Linked DNA regions of Homo sapiens: all the other regions are linked to region 1. The links come from fine-mapping of genetic effects on gene expression. A gene starts in region 1. Each other region holds a variant in brackets. All regions are shown on one strand. Distances are from middle to middle.

Region 1 (5,976 bases):
GTCTGGGATCGTGTCTGTGTGTCTGTCTGTCATTGTTTGTGTGTCCCCCCACATCGTCTGACCCAACAAGGGAAATGATGTGGTGGTGAATCTATGGCTTCATCAACCAGGATCACAGGATCAAGATCTCGAATTACAGGAGAGTAGCAAATTGAAGACCCCTTCCCAGGATGGGGCAGTGTAGGGGCAAAACGACCTTGACCTGCCACTCACCCATGCTGTCTGACTATAGGACCCTGCACTCTCCCCTGGCTGGAGGCATGGCTCAGTGGATGCAGGAGACCGTGACATCTAGCAGGGGCCTCAGGCGGTGTCAAGTCAGTGTGGCATGTGTTTATAAGCACAGGCCCTGGGGCATGTTACTAACCTTATCTGTAAAATAGAGGAACAGTTCTTACCTCACAGAGTTTAAACAGAATACATGAATTAATATTTGGAAGCTCTCAGAATGGTGCCTAGCATATAGTAAGCACTATTTAAGTATTTGATAAAATAAATAAACCCGGCCGGGCGTGGTGGCTCATGCCTGTAATCCCAGCACTTTGAGAGGCAGAGGCGGATGTATTGCTTGAGGCCACTAGCCTGGCCAACATGGTGAAACCCTGTCTCTACTAAAAATACAAAAATTAGCCAGGCCTGGTGGTGGGCACCTGTAATCCCAGCTACCTGGGAGGCTGAAGCACGAGAATCGCTTGAACCTGAGAGGTGAGGTTGCAGTGAGCTGAGATTGCGCTACTGCACTCCAGCCTGGGTAACAGGGGGAGACTCTGTCTTAAATAAATAAATAAATAAATAAACTCAATACAACCCTCTCATTTTACAGCCGATTTAGCCAGCCAAGAGAGGGTCACAAAGCCAGGGAATGACTGAACCTGAGCCAGGTCTCAGGCTCCTTGACTCCCACGCTGGCGTTGGGTCTGTGGGGCATCTAGTCAGCTGTTTGGAACAAAAGGGTTCCCAAACTCCTCAGTCTTTCTGCTGTTGGTGTGGTGTTACCTTTTTATGCAAAAAATACCTCAGCACCTCCTGAGAACAGCCTGCCCCATCCCCACAGCAGGGTCCCCTTTCAGGGTGCAGACACTGGGGTGAATAAGCAGCAGAATGTGTCTGTGTAGGGCTTCAGGGTGTTCTCAGGTGGCCCTGCCACAGAGGGCAGGGGCAAGGGCTTTCCTCTGGGAAGGGGAGGCGCTGGGTCTGGGACCATTTGTACACACAGGGCACAGCAGCCTAGAGGCTGCCTGCATGGATGACGATGGTGTGGATGGCAGGGGAGGGGCTATGGGGGAGGTCTGAGCCCCCAAACTAGACTGGCAGGTCCTTTCTGAGTGTCCTGTCCTGTGGGCTGCTTTCCAGCCCAGCTGGGAGGCATGGAGGCAAGACGGAAGAGCCAGTCTCTTTCCTTTTCCTTCCCTTTTGGGAGGCTGGGCCCAATAAACCGGAAACACACGTGTGGACCTGATGTTTGGAAAGGTGGATGAGGTTGCAGGGCAGGAGAAGGCTGTCATGAACAGTCCATGCTTAAAGAACTTAAAGCTGCATAGAGCTTCAAGGAGGGGAGGGAAGCCGCAAGGAACTTGACTGGGGAAGAGTGTGCACAGGAGAGCTGGGTGCAGAGGCTCTGAGATTAGAAGCACTGGGGGTGAGCTTGGGGAACGATTGAGAAGGCTGGTCCAGGAGGGTGGACCAGCCATGGAGTCTGGTCTTGGCCTAAGGGGTGCTGGGGAACCTGGAAAGTTTGTTTTTTTTTTTTTTTTTTCAGATAGAGTCTTGCTTGCCACCCAGGCTGGAATGCAGTGGCACAACTTCGGCTCAGTGCAGCCTCCACCTCCCGGGTTCAAGCAATTCTCCTGCCTCGGCCTCCTGAGTAGCTGGGACTACAGGCGCGTGCCACCACGCCCAGGTAATTTTTGTATTTTTAGCAGAGACGGGGTTTCACCATGTTGGCCAGTCTGGTCTTGAACTCCTGACCCCAAATGATCCACCCACCTCAGCCTCCCAAAGTGCTGGGATTACAGGCATGAGCCACTGCGCCCGGCTTGAAAGTTGTTTTTTAAAATCAACTTCACTGAGATGTAATTTAGGTACATACAGACAATTCTTAAACAACTCCACTCAAGAATTCTTTCAACCCATCAGTCAGAATGCATAAACCAGACCTGCCCCTCCTCTGCCCAGAACTCTTCAGCAGCTTCTCACCTTGCTTGCTTCAGCAGCTTCTCACCTTGCTGAATAGTAACCCCTCCTGTAAAATTTATATGTTGAAGTCCTAACGCCCAGTACTGCAGAATGTGACCTTATTTGGAATAGGGTCCTTGAGATGTAGTTAGGTTAGGATGAGGTCATCCTGGAGTAGGGTGAGCCCCTGATCCAATATGTCTGGTGTTCTTTTAAAAGAGGGAAATTTGGACACAGACACACACACAAGGAGACTGCCTTGTGAAGACGAAGGTGGAGGTGGGCGTGGTACAGCAGAAGCAAGAATACCAATGATGCCAGCAAACCACCAAATGCTAGGGAGAGGCCCGGGCAGATGGACGCGAGACCTCAGGGGGAGCGAAGGGAGGACTGAGAAGGAGCGACTGCAGATGGGGATGAAGTGTTGGAAGGAGGCAAAGATGATGCTACATCTTTAATTGGGGGTGGGCAACAACAGTGATAGAAGAGATCTTTGGGGAGATATTGACTGTTGGCCATGTGGTATTGCATGGTAACCAAGAGTGTGCGTGGACTCTGGAGTCGAACTGCTCCGTGGGTTGAGTCTGGAGCCTATCGCACAGGCGCTCCGTGACACTAGAAAAGTTACTTATGAAAATCCCCCCTCACGGTGCTACTGTGAGAATGAGATGAGATGATGTAAAAACACTTGGCATAGTCCTGGGCCTGCTGTTTGCCTTGAGGTGCCACCCTACTGACCATGTCCTGTGGACACAGCAAAAATGGGGAATGTAAACCTTGATCTAGCTGGCATGTGGGGCCCCGCCATGGAACTGGGGGGATGAGGGAGGTGACCATACCACAGGGGAGGGCCTGAGAGGTCTGCCTGAGAAAGATGGCAGCTGGATGGCCAACCCTGTTGGGTGCTGCAGGCAGAGGCTACTGGCAGAGGTGGCCTAGGGAGGGTCTGGTGTGGTGTGTGTGTGTGTGTGTTCGTGCACACCTGCATAGAGGGGCCCTGAAAAAAGCAAGACATCAAGATCTTCCCAAAGGAGCGGATTCTCTGCCTCCCCCTTTGCCTGTGGCTTCTGGGACAGGGTTGGGGTGTATGATTTGGCTGCCCCCAGGCCTACATTCTAGTGCATTTCTGCCTTGAAAACCACCCTCCCCACACTTTTGAGTTTTCCCAAAATGCACAGTGTCACTTGGGGTTGGAGAATTGTTTCTCAGCCCTGGAAGGAGAGGTGCACCCTGTCATGTCATCTCCTACAGCCTGAGAACCAGCTCAGCCTTCTTCAGAAGTCAAGGCCACAGTCACAAGAAAGAGGAACAGACCGATGTGGTGGAACCGGAACAGCCTGTCTCCATCTTCCCCCAAGAACCAAGAGATTAAAGCGGTCCTTCTGCAAGCTTCTGGGTCCAGGAACTCGGAGCTGGAAGGTGAGGGCGCAGATGGAGGAGGGGGAGGAGGCGAGGGCAGGGGGCGGCCATGGGGGTGCTGGACTCACATGAGCTTGTTGCAGACCGGGGGCTGGAAGGAGCCCCGGTTCTCCTTCACCCAGGCCCTCACTCCCAGGCGGCGCTCCATGACTGTCCCGGGCGCCTCCTCGCAGCGCTGTCCTCCCGCCGTCGGAGGCCCGCAGCTCCGCCCAGCCGCCTTTTTAACCAGAATCCCAAGCTCACGAGGCGGAGCAAACCCCCGCGACCCCGTGGTGGGGGCTTGGGGCCCGCGGACTTTGCCCCCTGGTGGACTTTGGTCTGAGCCCGCCGCCCTCCGCGCCACTCCAGGCCCTGGCGAGCGCGGCGGCGGCAGCGCTGGGGAACGGCGTCCCGCGCCCTCTGCTTCTCCGCGGGGCAGGGGCTCGGTCCCCGCCACCGTCTCCGGGGCGCCCCACACACTGGCGCCTGCGGTGGGGCCTGCTCCCGGCGGAGGACAAAGAATCCAGACCCTTCCTGGACGCTTGTCCCCAGACGTTCCTTCCCTCTACGCCCCGAGGGGAATCCCAGGGAAGGTTCCCAGAAATACTACAGTGAGGAGATCGCGGGTTGGAAGTCCCAGCACCTGAGAACACGGTGCTGGCGCTGGGCTCAAGATTTGGCTTTCCCATCTGGAAAAGGGGAATGACTGCCCCGCCACTCAGGGCTGCGGCGCTCACCCAGCGGGAAGCCGCACGGCGGTCCCCGCAGGTCCCGATTCAAGGTGAGCCCCAGACCTGCTGCGTGCGGCCGGCAGACTCCGCCGCGGGCTCGGCGAGGGGAGCGGTGCAGGCGCCGAGCTGCGGAGCCCGGGCTCAGGGCAGGACCGCGAGCCCTCCCCACCTGAGGCCCAGCCGAGCGGCCGCTGTCCGCGCAGTGTCGCAGTGGACCCCGAGCCCCGTGCTGAACTCCTTAGGCGTCTTAGGAACATACTCAGTTCGCACGCAGCTATGGGAGGAATTTGGCAGATGTGGACACCGGCCTCAGTGTCCTAGCCCTCGGGAATCTCGGGGTGTTAATGATGACAGCCCCGTGTGAGAGACTCTAACAGTTATCCTGGGGGTGAGGGGCTGGGGCGCTGGGCCTGGGCGTGCATGTGTGAGGAAAGAGAAATCTGCGCGGGTGTGGAAGATGGAGAAGCCTGTCTTTCTGCAGGACTCAGAACTTTCTTAGGAAGTTTGGAGGGAGTGGGAGCTGACGGGTAGGGGAGGAGGAAAATGGCTCAGGCCCCTGACACCGGAATCCAGACTATAGAGTTTAAGAAACTAAACGCCTCTAAATCCTGCCCTCACAGCCCGCCTGGCCTGGGCTGGTTTTCTCAGCATTCCAGACATAAAGACTCCTCTAGTACAACTCAAAATCAAAACCCAGACGACAGGAAGCCGAATTCCCCACTGAGACCCTCCCGTTTCCTCTCTGACGCTCTTTTTTTTTTTTTCATTTTTCTCTCTCCTTTTTTTTAGTTATTTATCTAGCACAGTTTTAGCTGAGCACTTCTAGTGCAAAACTAGAATATCGTTTTGCACCCAAGTAACTCACACCACCTTCTTTATTTTTCTCATCTACAAGTAATCAGAGGAGACGTAAACAATGACACATGAAGCACTGAGGATCTGAGATGTGTTAAGTTTGCTTTGAGTGTTAGTTAAATGGAGGGATGGGTGAGTGGGTGGATGAAGGCATCAATGAATTCACACAAAAAGGAGAAAAAATTGATTTCAGCCCAACAGATGTTCCGTTACCATAGTGCAAAGGAAAGAATGATAGGTACTCTGTATTTTAACTGATGTGATCAAATAATGTGAATAATTAAGGCCACAAGTAGAATTTTGGGGGTCTGAAATATCCCGAGTAACCCTCTACACAAGCTAAATGACTGCTATGTTATCACTATCAAATATGCCCTCTGATTTGTGCTGTGTAGAGCAAATACCACGTCTGGTCTACTGAATTGGCAAGCCTCCTGGCTCAGGCACCACTGGACTCCAATGTTCAGAAAACGGACAGTTGCTATGTTGTGAGTATTCTGGCATTGTTGAGTTGGAACCATCTGGAATCCTTCTGGATACTGACTGTTGGGCCCCTTGTAGTTTCTGGAATTTACCCGCTTCTAGGAGCCACCTCTCTCCTCTGCACACAGGAGCTCATCTGCACTAAAGGATTAGAAGCAAATAGAATCTACCCCACGATCCAAGCTCAAAGGATCTGGCCTGCTTGCTGGTGTCTTCCCCTGGCCTCCGCTGGGTGGTGTTTGCCTGCCCAGGTCACTGAGACCAGCAGATCCTTCTAGGCTTTGCTGAACCTGGCTGGTAATAACTATCTGACCCTTCAATTCTTCCATACACT
Region 2 (6,572 bases), 79 kb before region 1:
GGTGGGAGGTGATCCTATTCCATGGGGTTTTGTGATGGAATTGCCTGCAGAGCCCTTATTGAAGCACTTTTACCTTTTAGGTAGTGCCACAATGTAACCCCTAAGGATGCTGTTATAATGAGACTCCATAATCGAGACAGTACAGTCCAGTCTTACATGGATTCATTAGGTTTAAATAAAATTTGCCAATTTACACTAATTAGAGACTGTATGTCTTTGTAAACCTCTCGTTTTTCTCATGAACCTTTTACAATTGTCATACAACATTATGGAAATTCACCCTTGATTCATAACAAATACTATATTTATTAGAAGGTCTAGCAAATTACAAGTAAATTTTAAACTCATTTTTGGGTGAGTTTTCTGAAATTACACATTGCATTTTCATAAGCTAGCATCTAAACATATGGTTGAGCAGCCTGTTTGTCCAGTTTGGTTTCCATTTCATGATCATGTATCATATATATCACCACATAACATTTACATGACTTACTACTCTTATTTTCAACACATTTGGTCTTGCTTATCTTTTTTATTTTTATTTTTGTTAGCACAGAGATCATATGTGTCCATGAATTGTGGATCGTTTTGTCATTACCATGTCTCTGACAATATGTGTATAATTAATATGTTAGCTCTGGAGTCACATTCCAGGCTAGCATGTTAGAGCCGTGCAGCTTTTGTTCCTTAAGGGGTGACAAAACTTGCTGTCTGGCCTAACAGATAGGAAATCCTAAAGCCATTCTAAGAAATCTCTTACTATGAAATGTTCCCCTTTGATTTAAAGAGGATATCAATAAAAGGAATGATGACTGAAAAAAACATTTTTTGTTCCTAAAGATAATTTTTAGCAGAATAGTTGAAAGGCTTTAAAACTTAAGTAGCAGCTCTATAAGAAGAAAAATGCTTTGTAAAGGGAGTTGAGGGCTGGGCGCGGTGGCTCATGCTTGTAATCCCAGTACTTTGGGAGGCCGAGGTGGGTGGATCACCTGAGGTCAGGAGTTCGAGACCAGCCTGGTCAACATGGTGAAACTGTCTCTACTAAATATACAAAAATTAGCCAGGCGTGGTGGCAGGCGCCTGTAATCCCAGCTACTCAGGAGGCCAAGGCAGGAGAATTGCTTTAAACCGGGAGGCAGAGGTTGCAGTGAGCTGAGATTGCGCCATTGCGCTCCAGCCTGGGCAATGAGCGAAACTTCATCTCAAAAAAAAAAAAAAAAAAAAAAAAAGAAAGTGGTAGCAATGTCAGAGTCCCACAGAAGGGGGATTACTATATTAGATTCATGTATATTTGAGAGTTTAGGCTTATATTTAGGTTTTGTGCTAGCATTTGAGACCTCATGGACTTACGTTACCACTTTCCCATTTTGGGAATTAGAAATATTTATAGTCTAAATTGTTCAGCTCATTTAAAACACATTTTCATGTAATTTTTTAAATAAAATGGTGAAGACCAGTCACGGTGGCTTACGCCTGTAATCCTAGCACTTTGGGAGGCCGAAGTGGGCAGATCACCTGAGGTCAGGAGTTAGAGACTAGCCTGGCCAACATGGTGAAGCCTCATCTCTACTAAAAATTCAAAAATTAGCCAGGCATGGTGGCACACGCCTGTAATCCCAGCTGCTTGGAAGGCTGAGGCAAGAGAATCACTTGAACCTGGGAGGCAGAGGTTGCAGTGAGCTGAGATCATGCCACCGCACTCCAGCCTGGGCAACACAGACTCCGCATTAAAAAATAAATAAATAAATAAAAATTAAAAAGTAAAACATTTAAGAATGAAAATGAATGAGACTTTTCCATTAAGATTGGTGGGGATCCAGTATCATCTTTGTCCTAGGACTAGAAGAGAAACCATCAGCAACTCAGTTGGCTGCTGAGGAAACTCTGTTTCCCCAGGGCTTGTGTGTTAATTTTCAGTTAATTTGCACATTATCTTTGTTTTGATTATTCTTCAATGAAGTATATTTTTCTTTTATCTCGTTCTAATTTTTTTCTCAATTGACGGGCCATGCTGCTAAAAGGGATCATAATTAAGTTACCTGTATTTTATTTCTATAAGCATATAGATTATAGTAATCATAAAAGAGCAGTCGTCTATCTGGATGAAATTCAGAGAGCATGTATTATTTTGTTTTGTATTTAGCTTCACTGGTCATTGAGTTGTACATAATCAGATTCTTAAATAATTTTACCTTGAGATTTAAAATGACAGTGTTTCAGCAGCCGTCTACTCTTTTTTATTTTTCAGACAAGCAATGAACTTTTCCTAACATCTAATTGATTATGCTATCATCTCTTCTGTTCTTATACTTACCTTGTTACAACCTCTTCAGCAGATGTCTTGATCTTGGCTTGTTAGGGAGATTAGGTATTAATAACCTGATGTCCATAGGCAACCATGTCTGTGATCTACTGGGAGTGTATAGGAGAGAGAGAGAGTGTGTGTGTGTGTGTGTGTGTGTGTGTGTGTTTTCCAGTAAGTTTTCCTTAGTTTCTCAAAGGCAGTGTTAGGCCCTCCTCCACCCTGCAGAAAGTTAAGAATCGCTGTGATGCAATGTGAATGTACTTTCAGATAAGGCTGAAGTGTGTTATTCTCAAAATATTGATGGATCTAGAGTTCTAATTAATGCATTTTAGAATAATTTATTAGTTCTTCCCTGTGAGCTTGAGACTCTTCCAAGCACTGTAGAAGGTGACCTCTTCAATTGCCTCTGGCCACGGCAGCACCATCACAACCAGTGTCATAGTCAGTTTATGGGATGACACTGCAT[G/A]AAAGTGAAGAAATGGGAGCTTTTTAAACCTGTATTAAAGCAAATAGTAAAAACAAAAAAGGTCTTTGCAGATTCATAAAATATCTCAAAGAATATGTAAAGAGTAATGACATCTGAGGTAAGGGAACCTGGGAGGGTGAGGGAAAGGGGTGGGAAGATTTACCACTCTTCATCCATATATAGGAATTTTTTTTTTTAAGAGACGGTCTTGCTCTGTTGCCCATGCTCTGGAGTGCAGTGGTACCATCATAGCTCAGTGCAGCCTTGAACTCTGGGGCCCAAGTGATCCTCTTGGCTTCTGAGTAGGTGGGACTATGGGTGTGGCCCACCACACCGGTTAATTTATTTTTTTTAGAGATGGGGCCTCACTATGAAAAATTTATTTTTTAAACCAATTTCCCCAAATACCTAAATATTATTTTAATAATCTTTATATGTGAATGTATAAATCCATGCCAAAAGTTACTAACATTGGTAAAATGCCTGAGCCAGTTCTACCACGTAGACAGTACTTATTAAAAATGGATTGGTAGACCAAAATTCTTCATTGCATAAAGAAACGTACTGTTTTCTTAAGATTTGTGGCCCAACAGCAAGGTTATAAAATACCAAGTTTGGACATCGTGCTCACTTCAGCAGCACATATACTAAAAATTGGAATGATATGGGGAAGATAATCATGGCCCTGAGCAAGGATGACAACACAAATTAGTGAAGTGTTCCATATTTTATTAAAAAAAAAAAGTTAGCCGTCTTTTCTTTTTTCCCCCCTGAGGTCCCTCCCCCTAGTAAAAAAGCTATGTATGGGAGAATGACGTTCCTCTGTTATTGTCATCAGACGTTATTTCAGAGACTTCACCAAAGATCTACAGAATCATCCAAACACCTGATGCACACAGGATTATCAGCACTTGAGACTCAGGATCCTCACAGACTGAGGTTAAATAGAAGTAGGTTTACTAGCAACATTCCAAAGATGAAGCTAAAGTGCCTGGAAAAGTAAATCCGGATGATTTGCCTGGCACCTTGGTGGCTTGCAGAGAGAGTGAAGTGGTTTGGGCTGATAACATACCAGACTTGAATGGGCCACAGTATTCCCCTGTATGAGGTTATTTGGGAGGAACCTGAAGCTATTTTTCTGTTTGAAGAAGCTAATTTGGCTTTGGAAGTATCTCAAGACCCCACTTGATGAAAAATGTGTTTTATGAGATTTTTCTAGAGATTTCTCAGCTAAAGTTAATGAGTATAAGCTTTTCTGAAATTTTAAGCTTGAATCATGAGAGAATAGTTGGTTTGCTTCTTTTGGTATTTTTGGTAGAGAGTTTAAATTTTTTTTTTAGTATGTGCCTTGTGGTATAAGCCGAGGGAGTTTAATAAAAATTTGGTTTTGAATGGATACTGAAAAATTTTTCTAAAGGTACAAAAGTGGTTACAAATCTCATCACGTTCCTCATTCCTGATTTACCCCATTCAATGATAACCATTATCATCGTTGCCTTAAGTATCCAAAAAATATTCTGTGCATCTATAAGAGTCTAAGTAGGCTTATTGTTTGTTTCTATATGATATTAACATACTGTCTATATTGCTCTGTCCCTTGCTGCTTTTTACTTAACATACCGTGCCACTGTATTGAAAACTGCCTCCTTTTTGTGTCAGCTGCATAATCTATTTTGTTGTACCATAACTAGTTTCCTATTAAAAGCTTTTAAGTTATTTTCAGTCATTTTCTATCATAAATAATGTTGCAACAAATATCCTTATGCAGATATCATTTCATACTGATGTATAAAATGGGAATGTTCCTTACAAGATAGATCCCTAAAAGTTAAAGTTGGGGCCAAGGAGCATACATTTTGAATTTTGGTGTAGTTTTATTGCCCGTAGAAAAACTGCAATTCACAGTCCCACTCACAACATCTAGACAATTCCTATTTCTCTAGAACTTTGCTGGCAGTGTTACCCATCTTTGAAACCCGTGACTAATTGACAGATGACAAGTTATATTAGCTTGCATTTCTCATTTTGAATGAGATAGAAATCTTTGCCTATATTTGAAAACCATTTATCTCCTTTTCTGTCAACTGTTTTTGCCCGTGGCCTGTTTTCTATTGGCAGTCTTACTGACTTGTGGGAACTTTTTATATTTTAACAAAGTTATCTCTTAATCTGTGATATGTGATACAAATAGTTCCCCCGTTTTCTCTTTGACTTTATGGTGTATTTGCCAAGCAGATTTTTTTTTAAAAAAAGACATATTAATAGTTGAATTTATAAAAAAAAAATCATGAGTTTTGTGGCTTCTTTAAAAATACCTTTCCAGTTCTAGAAGCAAACTCTACTGATAGTTTTATCTTGACAGGGTTCTTGAATGCACATGTGGGATGTTTTTGTGAATTCTGTGTGTATATTGCAGGGTTTCCATCTCACTGCCCCCAGTATTTCCAAAACACTGTAGAAAAATAACCATGAGTTTCAACAAAAGTAATAGTGTATTTCTAGGTTAACCCCAAGGAAATATAGATCATCCTCTAGGACAGTGGTCCCCAACCTTTTTGGTACCAGGGACAGGTTTCATGGAAGACAATTTTTTCATGAACTGGGTGGTGTGGGCCGTGATGGTTTTGGGATGAAACTGTTCCACCTCAGATCATCAGGCATTAGTTAGAGGCTCATAAGGAGCAGGCAATCTAGATCCCTCGCATAGCGGTTCACAATAGGGTTAGCGCTCCTATGAGAATCTAATGCTGCCACTGACCTGACAGGAGGCGGAGCTCAGGCGGTAATGCTCACCTGCTGTCCGGCCCAGTTCCTAACTTGCTACCACTAGTACTGGTCTGAGGCCTGGGGCTTGGGGACCCCTGCTCTAGGAAACTAAAGACATGTTCCTTGTGACCAGTCAAGTGACTTGAGTGAGATATAGATGTTCTCTCTGGACAGGTTTTGATTCCTTCTGGGTTCTTTGGGGATTTCTCAGATTGCTTTCATTATCTGTGACTTCAAATGCATATCTCCCTGTTGAAGTGGAGTTAGGTGAGTAATTTGGGAGCAAGGACTGTCTGACAAGTGGCAGCATTGTTGGCCTGGCATTGAGTGCAGCCCAGCATTCCTTCTAACCAACTCAAGTGTGGGCCAGACAATCCCACCTATGGCTATTTCCTCAGGGCCAACTGTATTTTTCCTACTGAATGGCAACAACTTTTCTTATGTTAAAGAGTGACTAAGGCAGTCCTAGAATCTTTTCACTCTAATTTTTTCACAGTTGAGACATAATTCTTGCCACCAACTACTTTTTTTTTTTTTTTTTTTTTTTTGAGACAGGGTCTTGCTCTGTCACCCAGCCTGGAGTGCAGTAGCGTGATCATGGCTCACTATAGCCTCTAACTCAAGGGATCCTCCCTCCTCCTCCTCCTGAGTAGCTGGAACTTTCTATAAAATATTATGAGGATTAGTGAAATATGCTTCTTTCTAAAAAGCTTTGATCTCCCATTCAGAGGTACTCTGTAATGCAAATTGTCACTTAGAACATCATATAATTAATCCTCCTATTTTTAATGAGAAATTAGAAGCAAATATAGTTTAAAATGAAGTATCTTTGGGTATTGTGTTGGTGACCTCTTTGATGGATTTGTTGATGATAGCCATCAATGTCTATCAATTGCTGCCATATTGGCAGTTTTCCTTTGGGTCATCTAGACTGGAATAAAAGGCAAATCTTATTACTAGTAATATGGTGATTGCCTTTGTCAAGACATTGAGGAAATAACCAAGATGACTCATTCCAGCTTTATTAATAGAGAA
Region 3 (6,572 bases), 28 kb before region 1:
GTGTCTGGCCCACGGCAGGTGCCCAGTAAGCACTGGCAAGTTAATGACTGCTGGCCTGTCACCCAGCCCTGCCTGCTTGCCCCCTGCTCAGGAGTCCCTGGAGGAAGGTAATGCATGCCATCTGATCCTCTCTCAGGGGGGCAGCAGATTATGTTAGGAGAAAGAAGAGAAAAAAGGGTGGAAGATGCTGCCCAAAATTCACACTGGATAGTGCAGCCTGTCCCCGGGACCAAAATGCCATTTAGAACCCAAATGTAGGAAATGGGGTCTCCGCCTGCCCCCAGCTCCCATTATACCACCACGGGGTACTACTCCATCTCTAGGAAACCCTACACTTAAACACAGTTTTCTTTCTCTTCCCACTCCTCTTCCTTCTCCCTTCCCTGCTCCACATAATAACTGCCTTCCTCACCAAGTGCTCTGGGCATATAGTTACTCCCATCCCCAGCCCCTGGAGCTGGGCAAGGGCCAGGATTACTATTCCTATTCACAGATGGAGAACTAAGTCCAGAGAAGGGTACAGTGGGCTGGGGCCATAGTTCGGACCAGGGAGTCAGTCCTACCTCCATGTGGCGGCAGCCTGAAGCCTGCTTCGCGAGGGAGCACCCAACCCCGTTTAGAGAAGGCCTTGCAAATGATGGAAAGGCGGGGAAGGGTGGTGTGACCCAGACTGTCAGTGAGGAAGCAGTCCTCAGGGTCAAGATGGGGAGCAAGGAGAATCCAGGGCAGGTTAGGAGTGCGGGCCTGAACCCTGTGACCAGCATCTACCCAGGAACTCCTCAAGGGCAGCCTCTGCTCTCTCCCTTGATGGGAAAAGACAGGACTGCAGACATGCCTGCAAACCATGGGAGTATCTGTCCATTTCCCTTCCATCAGGTCATGAAGGAGTGAGGGCAGGTGCTGGGAGAGGTGCGAGGACTTGAGGGAGGAGTTGGTAGGAGAAGGGTCCAGGGAAGAGGAGATTGAGGAAATGGCCCGTGGAGCTGCCCTGAGCCCAGGTGGGCGCATTCAGGGGCAGAGATGGTACCAGAGGAAAGGTGCCTGGTGTTGAGCTGGCGGTAAGTGTTGGCGCCCCAGGTGGGGATCCACCCGAAGGAGCTGCTCAGTCCCCATCCTCCAGGAGTGTGCAGGCCTTTCCTAAAAGACCTGACTCAGGCTGAGGTGGCCCCGCCCAGGGTTGGACTCCCTTCCCTGTGGTGACAGAGGGCGTGGAGAAGCAGGGACCCCCTAGGCGTGGCTCCAGGGAGTAAAAGGGAGCAGTAGGAGTTGAGGGGGCAAGAGGGGCCCATGGGGAGCCGAGAGACAGAAGAGCAACCCTGGGGGGGGCCCAGGTGGCACCCCAGTACCTTGGTAGGTTTCTGAGTGCAGCAGGTAGATTTTCAGAACAGGGAAGTGGGCTGGAGATACACGGTGGAGGCGGGGTCTGGTACTCACCCGCTCATCCTTCCCGGGCCCACCTCCCTCTGCCTGATACTTTTTCTCTCGCTCCCTCCCCAGCATCCACATGGACCCTTGATGCCACCCTCCTGGTCTGTGTGTGACACTTCTGGGCTTTCACTTCTATTCCTGACGACTTTAGTAGCTGGGGTGCGTCCTGTCCATGATATGAGAGGGCTGGGCTAAGTGGATTGAGGGAACTGGGGAGGGATGTTAGGTCCCCAGCATCAAACTCTGTACCCGAGGGCCTGGAGCCCTGGTGGCCTGCCTGAGGCCTCACCCAAGAAAGCAGTTCTGCCTTTCAGGACATGCCGGGGCTTCCCAGAAGTTCTGGGAAGGACAGTGCCCCCTGGGATGGGGCTGTGGGATGGCTTCCCCACTCTCTCCCAAGTTTCCCTTCACCTTGGGGCGCTCACTTTGACGCCTACTGACAGTCCCAGGTTAGAATTAAAGACAGATATTTGGTCTTGCAAATAAATATATTTAAAAGGGAAGTTTATTAATATTGGAAGGGACAAACTGGAGAGCACAGAACATGCAGCTGTCCAATTTCTAAGGTGACTCTGCTGTGACAGTGATTGGCGTCTGTCCCCTGCAGCTGCGCAGGCCCCTGTCTGAGCTGGTGTGCCAACGGCACCTTGCCTGTCTCCTCCACCCGGCATCCTGCTCTCCCCTGCATTCTGGGAATGCCATCCTGGACACACTGAGAGGCCTAGGTGGGTTTCTCTCCCTGCCACCCACCTGAGTCCTGCCAGTGCTTTGGCCTGGCCCCTGGTCTGCCGCCATCCCTTGTCCAGTTGGTTGAGGCACCGTGTGCTGGCCTTGTCCCTCCAGGCCAGAGCGCGGCAGCCCTTACCCCCACAGCGCTGCAGCCCTGCAGCTGGCCCTCAGCCCTGGGAGGAGCCTTCCTTTTCCAGAGAGACCTCGCCCTGCACTTTCAGCTTCCCTATGGCCTCCGCCTTCCTAGAGGCCTCCCGGTAGCGCCACTGCCTGGAGGGTTGGTAGGAGCTCTCGTCGCTCACTGGGCCCTGCCGGCCCCGCGTGAGGCCCAGCAAGGCCCGGCTCTGGTGGAGGAAGTTGGGGCTAGAGAAGCAGTAGAGCACGGGGTCCAGGACACTGTTGAGGTAGGTGAAGGCCAGGGAGCCATGGAAGAGCTGTGTGCAGAGGTCCAGGGA[T/G]CGGCAGGCGGACAGCCAGAAAGCCACCATGGAAGCCATGCCAAAGATGATGCTGGGCAAGAAGCAGATGGTGTAGACGGCCACCACCATGGCCAGCACACGCATGGCCCTCTGCGGGCCTGCCTGCCCGCCCAGACCACGGTTCCGGATGGTGAGCCCAATGCTCACAATAGCAAAGAGGATGAGCGCCAGTGGCAGGAAGAACTCCAGCAGGTACAGTGCCTGGTGCCAGCGGAGCGAGGCCGAGGGCTTCGTGCCCACCCTGTAGCTGAGGCAGGAGGGGCCGGAGAAGGTGCTCAGGAGCAGGTGCCCGTTGAGGAGCAGGATGCCCACCCAGAGTCCCCCGGCCACCCGGGCAGCTGCCCCCACGGAAGCACGGCTCAGCACGTGGTGGGGCTGCACCACCTTCAGGTAGCGGTTGAGTGCGATGGCTGTGAGGAAGACAACGCTGGCCGTGCGGTTGGTGGACAGCATGAAGAGGTTGACTTTGCAGGCAGCAGCCCCAAAGCGCCAGGTCTCATGGAGGAGGTAGTAGTCCACGCGGAGGGGCAGGTTGCTGATCAGGAGGAAGTCAGCGGCCACCAGGCTGACCAGGAACACCGTGTTGGAGGTCCAGGGCCGCGTGTGGATGCAGAAGATGAAGAGGGCCAAACTGTTCCCCACCAGGCCCAGGACAAACTCCAGGGCCAGGATTGGTGCCAGGAAGGCAGACACCAGCGAGGAAGAGGTGGGGTGGCAGGGCCCTCCAGAGGACCCCCCCACAGTGGTAAAGGCAGAGGGAGCAGAGGAGGGTGAGGGAGAGAAGGAGGGAGGGAGAACAGAGGAGGAGAGAGAGGGAGATGGAGAGCTCAGGTTATGAAGTTCCATGGGCTGCTTGGGCCATGGGCCTGAGAGAAGGTTCTGGAGTCTTCTACCCCTGCAGGAGTGCTCAGGGCAAAGTGGGATGATTGGCACTATCAGCTGGCCACCACGGTGACACAACATCCTGGGGTTTTCATCAGCATTCTCGCAGCCACTGAGAAACACCCTGTGTTCCTGTTTGCAGGCCAAGGGGAACCCTGCAGCCCTCCCTCCTTCCCTCCGCCTCGGGGTACTGAGTGATCCCACCACATGAGGTCTCTGAGCCCAGCCTGGGGGTTGTGCTGCTGGTAGAGGAGGAAGCAGGGCTCAGCAGGGGCAAGATGGAAGCCCAGAGAAACCCTGAAGTGGGAGGATAGTCCAGCCGGGTGAGGTGGGGGCTCTCAGGATCATGCAGCCCTCCCTGGACACCCCCTCCTCCACTACATATAGAGGCTGGTGGCTGCCTCCCTGCCCCCACCAGCTCTGGCTTCAGGGACTGTGGAGCCAAAAGGACATTGTCCTGAGAGGTAGGCAGGGAGTCAGTGAAGACCTCCACCGCCCTGCTGGTGGCCTGGAGGGAACCAGTCCTATTTGTGCTCCGCCAGCCTGCTGTGTGTCTGAAAGCCCACTGTAGTTCAGCTTTCAGTTGCTCCCAGGTTCCTGATGGTTCCGAAGTCTGTGATGGTCCCAAGTCCGGGTACACGGTGAAGTAGGCCCCATGGACGGGGACGCCCCTGCCAAATTTCTACTGCCATGGCACGGGGAGCTGGGGGCTTCTCCCGCAAATAGAACAATCCTGATTTTTCCCTGTCTGTGTCTCCCCATGGCTCCTTGTCCACTCCACTCCTTGCCCCCATTAGCATTCACTGCGGAATAGGGAGTGGGAGGCTGGGGCTAGCTCCAGACAAGGTACAAGTCCAGCTGTCCCATGGTGAGGTATTCTCATGAGCCCATGGGCTGGTCCTGTGGGTGGAGATGAGGGCTTCAGGCTCCTGATAACCCGGGACAGCAGGGCCAAGGGAGGTGCTGGTTCCAGGCTCCAGGGCCTGACCCCATCACTGCCAACTGGCTGGGGTCAGCAGTCTGCCATGTGTGGCCTGGCCTCTGTGTCCCAGGCACAGTGGCCCCTGGCCTCTCTTGGCTGCCCTGGGCTCCCATTTGGTCAAGGCTGAGGGCAAACATCCCTGGGAGAAGCAGGGTGGTGAGGCCCAGCCTAAGCTCCATATGCAGACAGGCCTGGGTTGGAAACAGAGCTGCCCTATTTCCAAACCTCTCTGAGCCTGATCTGTAAAATCAGGCACTACCACCTTCTTGGAGAGTTGTGAGGATAAAATGAGATAATTTATGTAAAAACTTATAGGCCAGGCACAGTGGCTTAAGCCTGTAATCCCAGCACTTTGGGAGGCCGAGGCGGGCAGATCACGAGGTCAGGAGATCGAGACCATCCTGGCTAACACGGTGAAACCCCGTCTCTACTAAAAATACAAAAAAAGTAGCCGGGCGTGGTGGCAGGTGCCTGTAGTCCCAGCTACTCGGGAGGCTGAGGCAGGAGAATGGCGTGAACCTGGGAGGCGGAGCTTGCAGTGAGCTGAGATCGCGCCACTGCACTCCAGCCTGGGCAACAGAGTGAGACTCCGTCTCAAAAAAAAAAAAAAAAAAAAAAACAAACTTCTAGGGGATTCCTTGGGACAGAGCGAGTGTTCACAAAAACAGATCTAATTTTCATGACTTTCTCTCTGGATTAAGCTTGCCCTGCATATGAGAGTAAACTCTTCTCTTCACGGCCATCGGTATTCTGACCTGGGTCCTCCCTGGAACATTCTATGTCTTCTTCTCAGGTCCTGCACGGAGCAGTGCATTGCTACAGGCCAGGAACGAGCCGCGTGGAGCCTCTGCCTGTGCCTATCCTGGACCATTTGTGTTTGAAGGAGCCTGATGGTGTTTTTTCTTTGCTTGCAGGAGAGGAAAGCCCTTAGGGGTGACGAGGAGGTTGAAGGTCCCGATGTCTCTTAGGGCCAGTAGCCTTTTCAGCAAAGGCAGGTCTTTCTCTGCTCCCAGTGGAGTGTAGGAAGGCAGTGAGCCACTGGGCTGGGGATGAGGGAGACAGGGGTCAAGTGTTCTTTTCTAGAGGAAGCTTTGAGTCCACGCAGGGACCTGTTCTGTCCAGATCTGTCACTCTCATGTGCATGCCCTCATTGACTTCTCACGGAAGTCCCAGGAAACTGAGCTGCGCCCGCTGCAGGTTCCACATTCTTGTCTCTTCCCACTGGTGCCTCTGAGGCCTCCAGCATCCCTAGACACCCATAGCAGGCTCAGGGGTCCCTCTGGAGTCTTTGAACAGGGCACCTGTGCATGACAGGGGAGGGAAGGGGACACAAGGCCAGACACCCCCACCAACACTGCTGAGCTCCTGGTACAACTTCATGCCCCTCTCCAGGCTGATCATAGTCTTTAGGTATTAACAGTGGTTAGCTCTGGGTGGGGGATTTTGTGTATTTCTGGGTTTTCTATAGTTAGCACAGATGACTTCTGTTATTGGAAAAAAACTCAACAGATGCTAGTGTTTTAAAGTTATGTAAAAAGACAGACTGGGCAACATGGTGAAATCCCCATCTCTACAAAAAAGAAAAAAAAAATTAACAGGGTGTGGTGGTGCATGCCTGTAGTCCCAGCTACTCAGAAGGCTGAGGTGGGAGAATCACTTGAGCCAGGAGGGTCAAGGCTGCAGTGAGCTCTGATCACACCACTGCACTCCAGCCTTGGTGACAGTGAGATCCTGTTTCAAAAAAAAAAAAAAAGTAAAAAGAATAAATGAGAACAGAGAAGGAAGTGGAGAGATGACATTAGCCGTGCTCCCAGGACCAGGCATGGAGCATGCGTGGATCAAGTCACACACACAGTGAAGAATGCCCATCCACAAACAGGGATGCCCAATAACAGACCCTCCAACACGTCCATGGTCACCTGGTGCCCTGATGCCCCAGACACACCACATGGTCCTGGGGGGCACATGGGAAGGCCAGTGATGACTGCCTGCGGCAGACCCCCAGGTGTGCGTTCCTCAGGAAGCCTTTATTGAGGGCCTTCTTGGTGTGGAAGTGCTGCACTGAGTCTGCAGGG
Region 4 (6,572 bases), 350 kb after region 1:
AAATTAGTAGAGCGTGGTGTTGCACGTCTCTAGTCCCAGCTACTCGGGAGGCTAAGGCAGGAGAATCGTTTGAACCCGGGGGGCAGAGGTTGCAGTGAGACCAGATTGTGCCACTGCACTCCGGCCTGGGCGACAAAGTGAGGCTCCATTCCCCGCCCTCCCAAAACAAAAAATAGAAGGGGAGGGACCAACCCTGAATGAGGCATCACCATGTTCCAGGAAATTGCAAGCACAATATTCCCTTATTCTCCATCAACCCTGGGGAATCATTCCCATTTTACAGATAAGAAGATGAGATCAGAAAGGGGATGACCTATGGTGGTTGTAGATTGTCTGCGAAGATGGTCACTGACAATTCCTCTCCTCTCTGTATTAGAATGCTGTTCTTCCCTTCAAAAGGTGGAGCCAGTTCCGCACCACACACACACACATACACACACACACACACACACACACACCTGCATACCCCCACCTCTTCCTTGGCTCTAGGCTGCCCTTGTGACTTGCTCTGACCAATAGAATGTGGCAAAAGTGATGCTGTGTCGGTTCTGGCACAGGCTTTAAGAGGCCTATGCCTAGGCTTATACAATTTTTGGAATTCAAAGCAAAATGAAAATGTGGAGCCCCTTATTCAAAAAGCAAGATAAACATTGTTAGAGGCACTAAAATATAAAGCTTTCTCTTTTGATAGTCTCTCTCCCTTAACTCACCATGGTGTTTTTAACTTGCTATTTAATGCTACCCTAATAAAAAAGCTAAAATTTGAAAATGTTACTATGAATTTTGCTGTTCAACTTTATATGGTGCAAAGCCAGTTTTAAATGCAAAAAGAGCATTTAGCTCATATGTACAATCATCAGAATTATGCAATTCATATTTCATAGGTCATACATGCATATATATTTCATTCCTACCAGAAGAGTGGGAACACCACACAAAACTAACAACTTTTTTTTTTAAATTTTTTATTTTTTAGACAGAGTTTCATTCTTGTTACCCAGGCTGCAGTGCAGTGGCGCGATCTCGGCTCACTGCAACCTCCACCTTCAAGCAATTCTCCTGCCTCAGCCTCCTGAGTAGCTGGGATTACAGGTGTGTGCCACCACACTTTACTAATGTTTTTTTTTTTTTTTTTTTTAGTAGAGACGGGGTCTCACCATGTTGGCCAGACTGGTCTCTAACTCCTGACCTCAGGTGATCCACCTGCCTCGGCCTCCCAAAGTGCTGGGATTACAGGCATAAGCCACCGTGCCTGGCCAAAACTAACACCTTTTAATTTCTCTTCTTGCTATGCATATATTCTACCAACACTCTCTTCCTTTGGTTTACTGATGAGTAAGGACAGATGAAAAGAAAAGGAATGATCTGTACAGAGATGAGAGACCAGGAACAGGGTGGACATGCATTTTATGGACTTCCTCTGCTCATGCACATGCACCATTGTCTTAACTTACAAAACACAACACCATGGGCAGGGCGCCATGTCTTGTGCCTGGAGTCCCAGCACTTTGAGAGGGTGAAGAGGGAGGAAGCCCAGGGGCTCGAGACCAGCTTGGGCAGCATAGCAAGACCCTGACTCTACAGAACATTTAAAAATTAGCCAGGCATGGTTATGTGCACTCGTAGTCCTAGCTACTTGGCAGACTGAGGCAGGAGGATCCCTTGAGCCCGAGAGTTTGAGGCTGCCATGAGTTATGATCACACCACTGCACTCCAGCCTGTGTGACAAAGTGAGACCCTGTCTCAAAACACACACACACACACGCAAAATTCCCTGCAACACTATGTAGAGAAAAAGTGAGCTGTCCTGTCAATCCCTGCCCAAATTTTAGAATCGTGAGCAATAAACAGTTGTTATTTTGAGCCACTAGGTTTTGTGGTGGCTTCTTACACAGAAGCTGATGACTGATGTAATGGTTGAGATCACAAAGCTAGTAAAAGACCAGGCTGTGGTTGAACCCACATTGGTCTGAATCTCAAGTTCACACTCCTCTCTACCCCACCCAGGTTTCCTTACAAAGCTTTCATAGTGTTACTCCTTCTCTACTCCATGGTGAGTTGGTAAGTTTAGGGTTGAGCTAGGGGGTGAAGGTTGCTTCGCTGCAACAAATCAAAATTATTATTAGAACTTGGAAGAAGCCACATCTGGACTTGATGTGGCGGACAGGAGGTTGGTGGACGGGTCAGGGCTGAGAACAGGCCCAGCCTCTGTCCAGGGTGAATCTGGGCCCAGCGGGGTACTGGGACATCTGTTTTCCATCCTGATTCGGAAACTAAAGCTGCTTTCCTCTGCCTACCCCATCCTCCACCTCTGCTGACCCTACAGGAAATGGGAGTTGGAAATCTGGCTGGCCAGCAGCGGCGCCTCCTCCGATGGGAGCTCTCTGCCTGCCACAAGATTCAGAGTGCAAGGGCCTCGGGCCGCCTGTGCTTCTGCACACTCTCTCCCTCTTCCCCACTGAACCAGCGGCGAAGGGAATTCTCAGGGTCCCCCTTGGTCAAGGAGTCAGGTTTTCCCCTTTTAACTGATGGCTGTTGTTCCTGCTGCAGCTATTAGCATACCAAATTAGTAAGGATATTTTAGCGACAAGAAACAGAACTCCTATTCAATTGGCTTAGACAAGAAGAAAAGTGTGTTATCTCACAGTGATAAAATTCCTTTTTGAGATGGAGTCTCGCTGTGTGGCCCAGGCTGGAGTTCAGTGGCGCTATCTCGGCTCACTGCAAGCTCCGCCTCCCAGCTTCACACCATTCTCCTGCCTCAGCCTCCTGAGTAGCTGGGACTACAGGCGCCCGCCACCACACCTGGCTAATTTGTGTATTTTTAGTAGTGATGGGATTTCACCATGTTGGCCAGGCTGGTCTCGAACTCCTGACCTCAGGTGATCCACCCGCCTCAGCATCCCAAATTGCTGGGGTTACAGGTGTGAGCCACCACACCCAGCCTTTCCTCTGTATTTTAAATCATCTTTAGATTACTTTAAATACCTAATTATAATGTAAATGGTATGTACATAGTTGTTACAGTACATAAATGTACACACTATATTGTTCAGGGAATAATGACAAGAAAAAAGTCTGTGTATTCAGTACAGACACAACTTTTTTTCAAAAACTTTTTTTTGAGACAGGGTCTCCTGTCTCCCAGGGTGGAGTGCAGTGGTGTAATCTTGGCTTACTGCAGCCTCTGCCTCCCTGACTCAAGTAATCCTTCCATCTCAGCCTCCCAAGTA[G/T]CTTGAACTACAGGTGTGCGCCACCACACCCAGCTAATTTATTTTTGTATTTTTAGTAGAGATGGGGTTTCACCATGTTGCCCAGGCTGATCTTGAACTCCTGGGCTCAAGCGATCTGCCTGCCTCAGCCTCCTCATATTTTTTCAATTTTTTTTTTTTTTTTTTTTTTTTGACAGTCTCACTCTGTTGTCCAGGCTGGAGTACAGTGGCGCAATGTCAGCTCACTGCAACCTCTGCCTCCTGGGTTCAAGTGATTCTCCTGCCTCAGCCTCCCAAGTAGCTGGAAATACAGGCGTGCATCATCATGCTCAGATAATTTTAGTATTTTTAGTAGAGACGAGGTTTCACCATATTGACCAGGCTGGTCTTGAACTCCTGGCCTCAAGCAATCTGCCCGCCTCAGCTTCCCAAAGTGCTGGGATTACAAGCATGAGCCACCGCACCCGGCCCGCAAATGTTTTTGATAGCAGTTGGTTGAATACACAGATGAGGAACCCACAGACACTGAGGGCCGACTATATAAAAACTCAGGGATTGAGGCAGAGACTTTGCTTCCTCATCTGAGCACCTGTTGAGGTTGTTAAGAGCATCAGTGTCAGAGTTAGGCAGACTTAGGTCTGAATTCTGACCCTGTCCCTTTCTGGTTTTCTGATCTTATTCAGGTTGTTTAATCCTCCTGTAACACAATTTCTTTGTAGGTAAAATGAGGATAATACCCATCCCTGGACTGTTTTATTAACCAATACATTGCCTGGCATATAGAAAAGGGTGAAAAAGGCCGGGCGCGATGGCTCACACCTGTAATCCCAGCACTTTGGGAGGCCAAGGTGGGCGGATCACCTGAGGACAGGAGTTCAAGACCAGCCTGGCCAACATGATGAAACCCCATCTGTACTGAAAATACAAAAAAAATTAGCTGGGTGTGGTGGTGCATGCTTGTAATCCCAGCTACTCAGAAGGCTGAGACAGGAGAATCATTTGAACCTGGGAGGCAGAGGTTGCAGTGAGCTGAGATTGTGCCACTGCACTCTAGCCTGGTGACAGAGCAAGACTCCCTCTCAAAAATAAAAATAAAAAATAAAAAAAAGAGAAAAGAAAAAGGTGAAAAAATATTTTAAGCATGTGGAACCATGTGACCCAATCTGGCTATCTCCTTCTGCAATGCCACCCTCCTCTTCTTCCTGAGTCCATCTCTCTCCTCCCAGTTCAATCCTCAGTCCCCAGCTTTAGGCTCTCCCCTCTTAGATCCCTCCCACCCCTTACCCACAGCACTCCTTGTCTGGGCTTCCCCACCTAGCACCTAGACAGGGTGTCCCATCCACATTTCAGACAAGGCAACAAGATTCCTCCATGGCTGCCCATGCCTCAGAATCACTGCTTATCAAGCCCAGATGTGTCCACACTCCAGGCCCCCCTTCCTTGCCATCCCCATGAATACTGACTTCTTTGTACTTACTTGTCAGGGTTCTTGGTTGCAAGCAACAGAGAACTAACTCACGGACTTCTAGGGCTGGCTAGAGAGCCAGGCTCACAGCAACCAGGGAGGGCTGGACGGCAGCCAGAACCCCAGCCCAAATCACGCCTTGAGGACAGACCAGGGAGGACAACTGAGTAACCAACCTGAGGACTGGCCCTGCGGCCCCACTGCCCCGACACCTCCCTCCTGCTGCTGCTGCTGCCTCCACTTGGGGCAGATGCACTCCATCTCTGCTTCTTTGTGTCTTCTGCCTGAGTCAGGGTTGCTGAATGTGTGTGTCTGATTGGCTGAGCCAGGTCACAAGCCTGCAGCAACTGCAAGGGAGGCTGGGAAAGTGAGGCCTGGTGCCTAGAGTCTGCCTCTTGGGGAGACTCACAAGGTCAGGAAGGTTCCAGACAGAGGCCAGAGAGTCTGGAAAACATAAAGGTGGGCCAGGCGCAGTGGCTTACACCTGTAATCCCAGCACTTTGGGAGGCCGAGGCAAGAGTATCACCTGAGGTCAGGCTTTCAAGATCGGCCTGGCCAACATGGTGAAACCCTGTCTCTACTAAAAATGCAAAAAATAGCTGGGTATGGTGGTGCGTGCCTATAGTCCCAGCTACTCGGGAGGCTGAGGCAGGAGAATCGCTTGAACCCAGGAGATGGAAGTTGCAGTGGGCCAAGATCATGCCACTGCACTCCAGCCTGGGCCAAAGAATGAGACTCCGTCTCAAAAAAACAAAACAAAACAAAACAAAAAAACATATAAAGGTCCCCTCTGCTGGGTAAGAAACCATTTGCTCCTGGGGCAGGGCCTGTGTCTGCCTATCCCAGCCCCCACCCCAGCCTCAGGAGTGGCTGTGCTCTCAACAGGGCGCAGGAAACCTTCCTCAGGTGAGGGGTCCCAGAATTAGAGACCACGGGAGCTGGAGGGGCCATATAGGGGCATCTCTACAAAAGAAGTCCGTGGACTAACATTCAACCACCCAGTTTTTATTTTGTCAAGTAAGAATATCAGAGAAATAATAAACCATTTTTTTTTCTTTTTTGAGACAAGATCTCGCTCCGTCACCCAGGCTGGAGTGCAGTGGTGCAATCTCAGCTTACTGCAACCTCCGCCTCTTAAGGCTTAAGCAATCCTCCCACCTCAGCCTCCCAAGTAGCCGGGACTACAGGTGCACGACACCATGCCTGGCTAATTTATTTATTTATTTTTTTGTTGCCCAGGCTAGCCTCGAACTTCTGGCCTCAAGTGATCCTCCTACCTCAGCCTCCCAAAGTGCTGGGACTGCAGACATGAGCCTAGGCTAACAAATCACTTTCTCCTGGCACCATCATTTCATCAAAAAAGAGACAAGCGACATCTTAAACACCAAAAAAATAAAAAGAGAGGAGAGCAGGTTTTAGAATAGAGCATAATCCTTTAAGCTAAATACATATTGGCTTTAAGAAAACTCATTATATTGCCCTGAATTTCCAGGACTTTTCAGGACTTTTGCTGGAAACCTGTGAAAAGATCATGACACAGCTGAACTTGAATATGGGCTGTGGATTAGAGAATAGTATTGGATCAATGCTGAGTTTCCCGTGTCTACCATGCAGGAGTTACGTAAGTCTTGCACTGTAAAAGAGCATCCTTGTTCTTAGGAAATACACCCTGAAGTATTTAGAGGTAAAAGGGCATGATGTCTGCAACTTATTCTTAATTGGGAAATTTCAGGAAAAAATTACACATACACACATCCACATTCACACACATAAACATATATAAAGAAAAATAAAGTAAAAGGGGTAAAATGTAAACAATTAGTATATCTGCAAAAAAGTTATACTAGAGTCTTTGTAGTATTGTTGCAACTTTTTGGTAAATTTGAAATTATGTC
Region 5 (6,572 bases), 62 kb before region 1:
TAAAGAAAGGCCTTGGTATGGACTGGGTGCAGATAGTCAGAACTCTGTATGCTCTATTAAGGAAACTCCAGGGCCACACACAGGCCCTGTGACCAATCTAATAGAATCTAAACTCCAAAGGTGAAGATGAAAGATGTATACATAGGGGGAGTGGTGGCTTGCACTGGTAATCCCAGCAACTCTGGAGGCCAAAGCGGGAGGCTCACTTGAGCCCAGAATTTGAGACCAGCCTAGGCAACACAGTGAGACCCCAACTCTAAAAAAGTTTTTGTTTTAAATTAGCTGGATGTAGTGGCATGCACCCACAGTTCTAGCTACTTGGCGGGGGCTGAGGCAGAAGCATTGCTTGAGCCCAGGAGGTTGAGACTGCAGTGAGCTATGATTGTATCACTGTACTCTAGCCTGGGTTACAGAGTGAGATCCTGTCTCTTAAAAAGAAAGAAAGAAAGAAAGAAATCTGCATACGCAAGAAGCCTCAGTACTCAGTGCAAGGAGTCAGTAATGATAAAAAGAATAAAGGTTCAAAATTAGAGATCTGCACAGTGCCTTGCCAGTCTCCCTATACTTCAGTCTTTCTCCCTAGGATGTCGGTCCAGCAGTGTGCCGTATGCTGTCATTGTGGTTTCCAGTCCCATCTCCTCCACTGTGGACATTTTTACTGCTAGCAAACCAGGTATCACCTACTATGTTTGCCCTACTTGGTTAACTCCAAGTGGCTGTGAGTAGGTGAGGGCTTAGGCCAGCAGGGATAGAAGAGCCATTACTGGAAAACATTTCCATGTCAGAAAGCCCTGAAGAGAAGGCAGCAGGGGGAGATGGAACTTGTCTGTGCCATGGGGGGAAAAAGGGGTATCTGAGTGTTTGGAATCAGTTAGGATTAATTGCTTACTCCTCTGATTGCTTCTTGTGTGACCTTGGGTGAATCACATGGTTTTTTTTTTGGATGAGTTTTCTCCTCTATAAATCTGTAGAATACAGATGACATTTGCCTTACAGAATTGATCTTACGATTGAAAATTTTCATGTGCTTTATTTTTTAATTTTTAATTTTTTGTGGATACATAGTAGATGTATGTATTTATGGGATACATGAGATGTTTTGATACAGGCATATAATGCTTAATAATCACATGAGGGTAAATGGGTTATCCATTACCTAAAGCATTTATTCTTTCTTTGGTCACAGACAGTGCAATTTTACTCTTTTAGTTATTTTAACATGTACGATAAATTATTGTTGCTGTAGTCACCCTGTTAGCTATCAAATACTAGATCTTATTCATTCTATCTAACTATATTTTTGTACCCATTAATCATACCTCCTACCACTATCCTTCCTACCTTCTGATAACCACCATTCTACTCTCTATCTCCATGAGTTCAATTTTTTTAAATTTTTAGTACAAGTAAGTGAGAATGTGCAGTTTGTCTTTCTGTTCATGGCTTATTTCACTTAACATAATGTCCTCCAGCTTTATCCATGTTGTTGCAAATGACAGGATTTCATTCTTTTTTGTCTGAATAGTACTCCATTGTGTATATGTACCACATTTTCTTTATCAACTTGTCTGTTGATGGACACTTAGGTTGCTTCCAAATCTTGGCTACTGTGAATAGTACTGCAGTAAACATGGGAGTGCAGATATCTCTTCAATACGCTGATTTCTTTTCTTTTGGGTATATAACAGCAGGATTGCTGGATCATATGGTAGTTCTATTTTTAGTTTTTTGAGGATCCTCCAAACTGTTCTCATAGTGGTTGTACTAATTTACATTCCCACCAACAGTGTATAGGGTTCCCACCAACAGTGTATGAGGGTTCCCTTTTCTCCATATCTTTGCCAGCATTCCTTATTGCCTGCCTTTTGGATAAGAGCTATTTTAACTGGGGCTAAATGATACCTCATTGTAGTTTTGATTTGCATTTCTCTGATGATCATTGGTGTTGAACACCTTTCCATATGCCTGTTTGCCATTTGTATGTCTTCTTTTGAGAAATGTCTTTTCACACCTTTTGCCCATTTTTAATCAGATTATTAGATTGTTTTCCTATTGAGTTGTTTGAGCTCCGTATATATTCTAGCTATTAATCCCTTGTCAGATGGATAGCAGATATTTTCTCCCATTCTGTGCATTGTCTCTTCACTTTGTTGACTGTTTCTTTTGCTGTGCAAAAGCTTTTTAACTTGATATGATCTAATTTGTCTATTTTTGCTTTGGTTGCCTGTGCCTGTGGATATTACTCAAGAAATATTTGCCCAGAACAATGTCCTAGAAAGTTTCTCCAGTGTTTTCTTTTATTAGTTTCACAGTTTGAGTTTTTTTTTTTTTTTTTTTTTTTTTTTCACAGAGTCATGCTCTGTTGCTCAGGCTGGAGTGCAGTGGCACAATCTCGGCTCACTGCAAGCTCTACCTTCCGGGGGGTTCATGCAATTCTCCTGCCTCAGCCTACCCAGTAGCTGGGACTACAGGCGCCCACCACCACGCCCGGCTAATTTTTTGTATTTTTTTTTTAGTAGAGACGGGGTTTCACCGTGTTAGCCAGGATGATCTCGATCCCCTGACCTTGTGATCCACCTGCCTCGGTCTCCCAAAGTGCTGGGATTACAGGCGTGAGCCACTGCGCCCAGCCCAGAGTTTGAGGTCTTAGATTGAAGTATTTAATTTATTTTGATTTGATTTTTGTATATGGCAAGAAAGAGGGGTCTAGTTTTATTATTCTGCATATGGCTATCCAGTTTTCCCAGTGCCATTTATTGAAGAGACTATATTTTCTCCAATGTATGTTCTTGGCACCATTGTTTTAAATGAGTTTAAAATGAGTTTATACTGTAGATGTATAGATTTGTTTCTGGGTTCTCCATTCTGTTCCATTGGTCTGTATGTCTGTTTTTATGCCAGTACCATGCTGTTTTGCTTACCATAGCTCTGTAGTATAATTTGAAGTCAGATGAAGTGATTTTTCCAGTTTTGTTCCTTTTGTTCAGAATAGCTTTGGCTATACTGGGTCTTTTGTGATTCCATATAAATTTTAGGACTATTATTTCTATCTCTGCGAAGAACATCATTGGTATTTTGATAGGCATTGCATTGAATCCATAGATTGCTTTGAGTTAGTATGGACATTTTAACAGTATCGATTCTTCCAATCCATGAATATGGGATATCTTTGCATTTTTTGGTGTCCTCTTCAATTTCTTGCATCAGTGGTTTATAGTTTTCATTGTAGAGATCTTTCACTTCTTTTTCAGATTGTTTAGTGTTGTCATATAGAAATACTACTGATTTTTGTATGTTGATTTTGTATCCTGCAACTTTACTCAATTTGTTTGTCAGTTCTAATAGCTTTCTTGTGGAGTCTTTAGGTTTTTCCAAATATAAGATCATATCATCTGCAAACAAGGATAATTTGACTCCTTATTTTCCAATTTGATGACTTTTTTTTTCTTGTTTTATTGCTGTAGCTAGAACTTCCAGTACTCTGTTAAATAACAGTGGTGAAACTGGGCATCCTTGTCTTGTTTTAAATCTTAGAGGAAAGGCTTTCAGCTTTTCCCTGTTCAGTATGATACTAGCTATGGATCTGTTATATATGGCTTTTATTGTGTTGAAGTGTGTTCCTTGTATTCC[T/C]GGTTTTTTAAGGATTTTTATCATGAGGGGATGTTGAATTTTATCAAATGCTTTTCAGCCTCAATTAAAATAATCAGATGGTTTTTGTCTTTCAGTTGATGTGATATATTACACTGATTGATTTGTGATTGACTTGCATGCTTGCATTCCTGGGATAAATCCCACTTGGTCATGAGATAATCTTGTTAAATGAATTGTTGAATTCAATTTGCTAGTATTTTGTTGAGGTTTTTTCGTCAGTGTTCATCAGGACATTGACTTGTAGCTTTTTCTGATATGTCTTTTTCTGGTTTTGCTATCAGAGTAATACTGGCCTTGCAGAATGAATTTGGAAATATTTCTTTCTCCTTTATTTTTTGGAGTAGTTTCAGTAGGATAGGTTTTAGTTCTTCTTTAAATGTTTTATAAAATTCAGCAGTGAAGCCATAGGGTCCTGGGCTTTTTTTCTTTGCTAGGAGACTTTTTATTATGGCCTTGATCTCATTACTTGTTATTGGTCTGTTTAGGTTTTGGATTTCTTGATGATTCAATCTTGGTAGGTTGTATGTGTCTAGGAATGTATCCATTTCTTCTAGCTTTTCCAGTTTGTTGGCATTTAATTGCTTATGATAGTCTCTAATGATCCTCTGAATTTCTGTGATATCAGTTGTAACGTCTCCTTTTTCATCTCTGATTTTATTTGTGTCTTCTCTCTTTTTCTCTTTAGTCTGGCTAAAGGTTTATTGATTTTGTTTATAATTTCAAAAAATCACCTTTTTGTTCCATTGACCTTTTGTATTGCTTCCTTCATTTTGATTCAACTTATTTCTGCTCCGATCTTTATTATTTCTTTTCTTTTACTATTTTGGATTTAGTTTGCTTTTGCTTTCCTAGTTCTTTAATATGCACTGATTAGGTTATATGAAGTATTTCTAATTTTTTGATGTAGGCTTGTATTAGTCTGTTTTCACACTGCTGATAAAGACATATCTGAGACTGGGAAGAAAAAGAGGTTTAATTGGACTTACAGTTCCATATGCCTGGGGAAGTCTCAGAATCTGGTGGGAGGCCAAAGGCACTTTTTACATGGTGGCAGCAAGAGAAAATGAGGAAGAAGCAAAAGCAGAAACTTCTAATAAACCCATCAGATCTCGTGAGACTTACTCACTATGACAAGAATAGCGTGGGAAAGACCGACCCCCATGATTGAATTACTTCCCCCTCCCACAACACATGGGAATTCTGGGAGATACAATTCAAGTTGAGATTTGGGTGGCGACACAGCCAAACCATATCATTCCACCCCTGGCCCCTCCAAATCTCATATCCTCACATTTCAAAACCAATCATGCCTTCCCAACAGTCCCCCAAAGTCTTAACTCATTTTAGCATTAACCCAAAAGTCCACAGTCCAGTCTCATTTGAGTCAAGGCAAGTCCCTTCTCCCTATGAGTCTGTAAAATCAAAAGCAAGCTAATTACTTCCTAGATACAGTGGGGGTACAGGTATTGGGTAAATACAGCCGTTCCAAATGGGAGAAATTGGCCAAAACAAAGGGGTTATAGAGCCCATTCAAGTCTGAAATCCAGTTGGGCAGTCAAATTTTAAAGCTCCAAAATGATCTCCTTTGACTCCGGGTCTCATATCCAGGTCATGCTGACAAAATGACCTGGTACACAGTGTAAACTGTTGGTGGATCTGCCATTCTGGGGTGTGGAGGACGGTGGCCCTCTTCTCACGGCTGCACTAGGCAGTGCCCCAGTAGGGACTCTGTGTGGGGACTCTGGCCCCACATTTCACTTCCACACTTCCCTAGCAGAGGTTCTCCATGAGGGCCCTGCCCCTGCAGCAAACTTTTGCCTGGGCATCCAGGCATTTCCATACATCTTCTGAAATCTAGATGGAGGCCCCCAAACCTCAATTCTTGACTTCTGTGCACCCACAGGCTCAACACCATGTGGAAGCTGCCAAGGCTTGGGGTTTCCACACTCTGAAGCCACGGCCTAAGCTCTACATTTGCCCCTTTCAGCCACAGCTGGAGCAGCTGAGACACAGGGTACCAAGTCCCTAGGCTGCACACAGCACAGGGACCCTGGGCCTGGCCTATGAAACCACTTTTTCTTCCTGAGCCTCCAGGCCTGTTATGGAAGGGACTGCTGTGAAGACCTCTGACATGGCCTAGAGACATTTTCCCCATGGTCTTGGGGATTAACATTAGGCTTCTTGCTACTTATGCAAATTTCTACAGCCAGCATTAATTTCTCCCCAGAAAATGGGTTTTTCTTTTCTATCGCATAGTCAGGCTGCAAATATTCTGAACTTTTATGCTGTTTCCCTTTTAAAACTGAATGCAGTACCCAAGTGACCTCTTGAATGCTTTGCTGCTTAGAAATTTTTTCTGCCAGATATGCTAAATCATCTTTCTCAAGTTCAAAGTTCCACAAATCTCTAGGGCAGGGGCAAAATGCCACTAGTCTCTTTGCTGAAACATAACAAGAGTCACCTTTGCTCCAGTTCCCGAGTTCCTCATCCCCACCTGAGACCACCTCAGCCTGGACCTTTTTGTCCATATCACTATCAGCATTTTGGGCAAAGCCATTCAGCAAGTCTGTAGGAAGTTCCAAACTTTCCCACATTTTCCTGACTTCTTCTGAGCTCTCCAAACTGTTCCAACCTGTGCCTGTCATCCAGTTACAAAGTCGCTTCCACATTTTCGGGTATCTTTTCAGCAACACCCCACTCTGCTGGTACCAATGTACTGTATTAGTCTGTTTTCACACTGCTGATAAAGACATACCCGAGAATGGGAAGAAAAAGAGGTTTAATTGGACTTACAGTTCCATATGGCTGGGGAGGCCTCAGAATCATGGCAGGAGGTGAAAGGCACATCTTACATGGTGACAGCAAGAGAAAATGAAGAAACAAATGCAGAAACCCCTGATAAACTCATCAGATCTTGTGAG

Direction of the effects. Alleles are on the strand shown, and positions count from the first base shown. SD is a standard deviation of normalised expression in the study named. Not every link is listed here.
In carriers of allele T in region 5, the expression in cerebellum of the gene that starts at base 3,789 in region 1 tends to be lower than with C alone (moderate effect, 0.52 SD a copy in GTEx).

What was found. PIP is the estimated chance that this variant, and not a neighbour inherited with it, causes the effect.
Region 2: its variant is fine-mapped to the expression of HAAO in whole blood (TOPMed, PIP above 0.99).
Region 3: its variant is fine-mapped to the expression of HAAO in lung (TOPMed, PIP above 0.99).
Region 4: its variant is fine-mapped to the expression of HAAO in lung (GTEx, PIP 0.98).
Region 5: its variant is fine-mapped to the expression of HAAO in cerebellum (GTEx, PIP 0.96).

The regions. Positions count from the first base shown.
Region 1 is chr2:42,788,795-42,794,770 of GRCh38, forward strand. HAAO (3-hydroxyanthranilate 3,4-dioxygenase) reads right to left here and starts at 3,789. Exons shown (of 10, transcript NM_012205.3): 1 at 3,663-3,789. The coding sequence starts at 3,742. RefSeq lists silencers at 3,636-4,075, 4,256-4,355, 4,436-4,525.
Region 2 is chr2:42,709,346-42,715,917 of GRCh38, forward strand. The region is part of intron 14 of MTA3 (metastasis associated 1 family member 3); the gene reads left to right. It also overlaps the pseudogene RNU6-137P. Among named protein-coding and RNA genes, the nearest start is that of OXER1, 52 kb to the right of the region's middle. The variant G/A (reference allele first, on the strand shown) is at 2,772.
Region 3 is chr2:42,760,584-42,767,155 of GRCh38, forward strand. OXER1 (oxoeicosanoid receptor 1) reads right to left here and starts at 3,552. Exons shown (of 1, transcript NM_148962.5): 1 at 1,916-3,552. The coding sequence starts at 3,479. The coding sequence ends at 2,325. HAAO (3-hydroxyanthranilate 3,4-dioxygenase) reads right to left here. Exons shown (of 10, transcript NM_012205.3): 10 at 6,506-6,572. The variant T/G (reference allele first, on the strand shown) is at 2,613.
Region 4 is chr2:43,138,173-43,144,744 of GRCh38, forward strand. No RefSeq gene overlaps it. Among named protein-coding and RNA genes, the nearest start is that of LINC02580, 39 kb to the left of the region's middle. RefSeq lists enhancers at 1,823-2,394, 2,017-2,086, 2,395-2,965. The variant G/T (reference allele first, on the strand shown) is at 3,234.
Region 5 is chr2:42,726,769-42,733,340 of GRCh38, forward strand. The region is part of intron 16 of MTA3 (metastasis associated 1 family member 3); the gene reads left to right. Among named protein-coding and RNA genes, the nearest start is that of OXER1, 34 kb to the right of the region's middle. The variant T/C (reference allele first, on the strand shown) is at 3,631.